Regions from separate parts of the Homo sapiens genome. Here region 2 is linked to region 1. The links come from fine-mapping of genetic effects on gene expression. A gene starts in region 1. The other region holds a variant in brackets. All regions are shown on one strand. Distances are between the middles of the regions.

What was found.
Region 2: its variant is fine-mapped to the expression of RTN3 in monocytes (BLUEPRINT, PIP 0.93).

What each region holds. Positions count from the first base shown.
Region 1 is chr11:63,680,204-63,683,004 of GRCh38, forward strand. RTN3 (reticulon 3) reads left to right here and starts at 1,297. Exons shown (of 9, transcript NM_001265589.2): 1 at 1,297-1,575. The coding sequence starts at 1,434. RefSeq lists a silencer at 1,470-1,589.
Region 2 is chr11:63,813,552-63,816,352 of GRCh38, forward strand. It overlaps SPINDOC (spindlin interactor and repressor of chromatin binding), which reads left to right. Exons shown (of 6, transcript NM_138471.3): 1 at 1-262. The coding sequence starts at 136. Among named protein-coding and RNA genes, the nearest start is that of SPINDOC, 1.5 kb to the left of the region's middle. RefSeq lists a silencer at 1-10. The variant T/TAGC (reference allele first, on the strand shown) is at 1,455.

The DNA.
Region 1 (2,801 bases):
TTTCACCACATTGGCCAGGCTGTTCTTGAACTCCTGACATCAGATGATCCACCTGCCTCGGCCTCCCAAAGTGCTGGGATTACAGGTGTGAGCCACCGCGCCCAGCCAACAGTCCTCCTTTAACAAAGACTATGCACCTTTCCAATATTTTGACCAGATGTAGGGAGAAGGCTTCGAATTTGGCAATCCAGCCCAGGAAAAGCAAAAAATGAACAAAATCCAATATAGGCTAGAAATCTGGTTTTAAATACATGTTCTGCTAAGGACCTCTTTTAGTCTATGAATAAAATTCAATTATGTGTATTTTGTGCCTTATTCTGATTTTTTTTACTTTTTTTTTTTTTTTTAAGGCAGGAAGGTTCTCGCTGTGTGGCCCAGGCTGGACTCCAACTCCTGGGCTCAAGTGATCCTCCCTTCTCTGCCGTAGCAGAGACTACGGGCCTCTGCCACTGACTGCGGCCTTATTCTGAATTTTTAATATCTAATTTTATCATCCCCCATAATCACAGCCAACATTTTCTTATCTCCTGGCTCTTCTTCATCAGCTCAGCATTTTTTTTCCCTCTCTAAAATATGTCGTCTCTATCTGACAGTCTATTCGGAGGAAAAGAGAACCTTAAGACCCAAGGTGGACCCTTCTCTGGCAACAGTAACGAGATAAGAATACGAAGCAGGTTCTGCGACTGCATTGCAATGTGATTGGAATGAGTAATCGTTTTTCATTCTGTATAGCATCTTTCTCCACCTACCAAATGGGGGGCCGTGCCATCTCTGCCTCTCGGTGAGGAGATATTACGACACAGCCAGTGAGATTCACAAAGCACCTTGCAGAGTGGGCCTACTCTACACTCTGGTTTTCAGTTTTTATTGGAGTCACAGGTGGGAATGCATCAAACAAAAGATATAGGCTCTGGAATGTACGGGAAAGAGAGTTTCCATAATGGAAGCCCAAAGACATTTCTACCGTTAAAATACATAATCTGCCGACCCTAAAACATTCACATAAAGAGGCAGGAGGGAATACTATCCCGCAGCTCCACGATTAGCCGCAGTCGTGGGCGGGGATTGGGGCTTGGATACGCCTTTTGCGTCTGGTCCCCAAGGGACGCTCCCCAACCCTCGGCGCGCGAGGCGCCGCGTGAGGCCGGCTTTGCCCCTCCTTCCCTGCAAGAGCGCAGAGGAGCGGTTCTTGCGCCTGCGCCCTGCGCCGCTGCGCGCTTTGGCACCCGCTTGGGGCCCTTTGTGCGCATGCGCGCTCGCGCTCCCGCCCTCTAGCTGCGCTCGGCTGAGTCAGTCAGTCTGTCGGAGTCTGTCCTCGGAGCAGGCGGAGTAAAGGGACTTGAGCGAGCCAGTTGCCGGATTATTCTATTTCCCCTCCCTCTCTCCCGCCCCGTATCTCTTTTCACCCTTCTCCCACCCTCGCTCGCGTAGCCATGGCGGAGCCGTCGGCGGCCACTCAGTCCCATTCCATCTCCTCGTCGTCCTTCGGAGCCGAGCCGTCCGCGCCCGGCGGCGGCGGGAGCCCAGGAGCCTGCCCCGCCCTGGGGACGAAGAGCTGCAGCTCCTCCTGTGCGGGTAAGGCGCGCGGGGAGCCCCCGCCCTGGGAAAGAGGGCGAGCGGGAGCCTGGGGGCTGGGGGGATTAGGAGGCGAGGCGGGAGGAGGACGAATTACCCTCGACTACTGACGGCTTCAGCCCCCCGGGGACGAGCGTTTGGAAAATGGGCAAAGGGGAAGGGGAACGTAAGGTTGTGCAGGCGGTGAGGAAATAGCGGGGTGTGAGGAAAACAGGTTGGGGGCGGGGAGATAGTCCAGTGGGCGTTAACGCCAAGACTGGGCAGGTGGGGAAAAATACCAGCTCGTGGGATAAAATGGAGAGTTGCTCGATGCATATGGTGAACCTGGGTGATTTAGTGAGGATTAGAGAGATTGAAAGGATACGGGCAGGTGGGTGGTGGGAGAAACAATTTGTTACTATTTTTGAGGGGATGGTGGTGAAAGGGTTGCATTGCAGGTTTGCAGACAGGTGTTGACATAATCAAGCATTCATGATAGTCCTCCAAAATATTTTTGGCTGCCCATGGGAAGGATGAGGAAGTTTAATGGAAGCATTGTAGCCTGTTTTTTTTGTTTGTTTGTTTTGTTTTTACTGTTTTCGGCTAGACTCCATGAATGCCGGATTTTTCTGAGGCTCCGAGGTAGAAGGAGGCGTGATGAGAATAGCTCAGGGAAGATTTGGGAGGGAGCTGCTAATGGTCCAAGATGGATCCGTGGCTGCATCTGCAACAGCCTGCTCTTCCCTGGCGCTGCGTGGGGGTGGGGACACGCAATCAGTCGCTTATATTCTAGAAAATAGAGTCATGCTAAGCTATCAACATGTTTTGATTTCATGTTTTCTGTGGGCTACTATTGATCGAAGTATAACAAAGGGGGGTGTTTATTGCAGAAAGGGGGAGGGGGAGAACATTCAGACAAAGCAAGGGCTGGTTGAGTCCCCTTCTCCCATCTCTGTGAAAGACTAAGAACGAAGCTGCAGACCTCCTTTAGTTTGCATTGTATACGCGTCTGCCTGCTGGTAAGAGCTGCCTGGCAAGCTCCCCTTATGCAGAAATCTGCAGTGCAGATGCCTTCTTAAGGGGGGAAAAAAAAACCACCATGGGCAGGTGGTAGTTCTCAAAGGAACGGAGTCTTTGAAGGGAAAAAAAATGCCTTTTGTCAAAGGCAGGGCCGTAAATTCGGGAGAGTAGAGATAATTTTGCTCTCTATTTAGTTATGTTAAAGGATTTTGATCATTTTTTTTTAA
Region 2 (2,801 bases), 130 kb after region 1:
CGGCGGGGAGGGGGCTGCGCGGGGCGGGCGGCGGGCCCGGCGCTATTCCGGCCAGGAGGCGGGAGGCGGTTGCCGGCTGCGCGCCGAAGCCTGCGCGCCAGTCCTCCGGCCACTGCTATCGCCCACGGCCGCACCATGGCCCTAAAGGCCGAGGGCGCCGCACTCGACTGCTTCGAGGTGACGCTGAAATGCGAGGAAGGGGAGGACGAGGAGGAGGCCATGGTGGTGGCCGTAATTCCGCGGCCCGAGCCGATGCTCAGAGGTGAGGATGGAGGGGATTCCACTTCCGCGTCACGGTGCGGGGCCGGGGCTGGGGCCGTCCCTCCCCAGTCGGGGTCCGGGACCCGGGCACCTTCTCACCCCCTTCAGCCTTGGGGCCCAGGTTTCCCTCTCGGATCTGGGTCCAGGGCGCGCTCTTGCACCTCCCCCACCATGGTTTAGAAGCTCAGGCCTCCTCGATTTCCCCCTCCCTTCCCCTTTCCCCCGCCCAGGGTCTGGAGACTTCGATCCACGCCCCGCACGCTCCGGATCTTCCGGTGCCCAAGCGCCCCCTCTCCCGGGCCCAGCACCAGAGGCCGGATCCCCAGAGGCGCTGGGTGGTTGCGGCCGCCGTCTCACAGCCTGGGAAGGGGAGGCAAGCACAACGGCCGGGCTGTGTTCTAGTCCGAGGGGCGGCGAAGCCTCTAGGCCGGAGGCTACAGGCGGGCGCCGCTGCCGACCTCCAGGAGAATTTTAAGGGCTCTCCGAGCATAACGCTTCCCTGCCCACCACCCCGCTTCATTCCCATTCCCGGGCCTTCCACTTGCAGGAGCCACAGGTGTCAAGTTCTGGAGAGAAGGGATGAATGGGACTGCATACAACAGCTAGTTTGGAAAAGCAGTGCAGTGCTAGAACGAGATTAGCTTTGGGAGGGGATGGGAGGAACAATCTCAGAACACTCGCTCTCCCCTCCCCCTTCACCGATTTCTAGTCCTCAGGAGCTTGCAAACCGTAAGAAAACAAAGAGCCATCTTTGTGGGAGACTTAATATGCATGAAAATGCAAATATATTTCCATTCTCCCACCCCGCTTTTCTTAGGCGGGATAGTACCCAAAAGAGGTTGAGAGCAGCAATGCCATTCATTGAACTTCAGCCGAACAGAATGATGTCTGCCTGCACTGCCTGTCATCCTTTTTGGAACTGGAAGGGTTATAAAATTCATGAGGGAAATAAAGGTCACCTCCCTTCTCGGAGCATTTAGTCCAAAAGATAGGTTGTTTTCCTACTTCTGCTAATATTTGTTGAGTGTTCATTGGGCATTGTCAGAGGCTGTCTCAGTTAATCCTCTCAACCCTGCAAGGGTGGCCTTATCCCCACTGTTAGGGCAGGAATAGACAGGTGAATTCATTCAACCAATATTCACTGGACGTCTACTTTAGGCTGTTTAGGCTAGTGTTTTTAGGCTGGGAAGTAG[T/TAGC]AGTAAACAGAGCAACCGAAACCCTGCTCTTGAAGAACATATATATACCAATGGCTAAAGACAGAGAAATAGGTTCATGTATAGTATGTTGGGTGGCAATAAATGGTTCAGAGATCACTAAAGCAGGAAAAGGAGAAAGAGGAGGAATGGGTATTTAATTGAATATATCGAGTGGTTCAGAAAGGGTTTTCTAATAAGGTGAATTTTGAGCACAGACCCGAAGGAAGTGAGGATGCCAACCTTGCAGATATCTGCAGGAAGAGCATTTCAGGCCGAATAGCAAGTGCAAAGGTCCGGCAGCACAAGCTTCTGGAAAGATTTCGGTGGAGAGAGGAAGAAAGATTGAATTCAAGGTTTTTGGCCTGAGCAACTGGAGGAAGAGCCTTCCCATTTTCCGAGATGGGGAAGGCTGCGGTGCTCTTGGGAGACTGGGAGTGAAAGTTTGAATATGATTACGTTTGAGATGCCTATTTATGACATATTCAGGTGGAGAGGTCAACTAAGCAGTCAGATACATGGGCCTAGATTTCCTGGAAGTATCTAGCTAGTGGCGTAAACAGAAATTGCCAGCAGGCAGACAGTGGGAAGAGAAGGAAGTAGAGAAGTGTCTAAGGACTGAGTCCTGGGAAACTCCAGTGATGGCAGGTTGGAGACCGAGTCAGTCCCTCATCACACATTACTAAATGCCACTGCATGCGAGGAGATACAGATACAGATGCTGGAGATACAGATGCAAAACATCAGAAATCTGTATGGTCATGGATTTTTTTTTTTTTTTTGAGACGGAGTTTTGCTCTTTTTGCCCAAGCTGTAGTGCAATGGCACAATCTCGGCTCACTGCAACCTTCGCCTCCCGGGTTCAAGTGATTCTTCTGCCTCAACCTCCCGAGTAACTGGGATTATAGGCATGTGCCACCACGCCCAGCTAATTTTGTATTTTTAATAGAGATAGGGTTTCCCCATGTTGGTGGGGTTGGTCTTGAACTCTCAACCTCAGGTGATCCGCCCACCTCGGCCTCCCAAAGTGCTAGGATTCAGGCGTGAGCCACCGCACCTGGCCGTGGTCATGGATGCTATGGTGTGGTAAGGAGACAGGCAGTGAACATCCCAAAAACAAGTGCCAGGTGGTGATGTGTGCTGTGTTGGAGGTGATGCATAAGGGGAATGGGGTGCTCTAGTGAGGGGAGATGGTCTTCAGCAACAAGCCAGAGGAAGGGAGGGAATATTGAGAAGAGATGAGGAAGAACTAGCACACATAACTGAGAAAGAGGGCCAGGGAAGCAAAAGAAGAACCAACAGAAGGTCATGCCCTAGACGCAAGTGATGAAAATCAAGATGGAAGAGGTG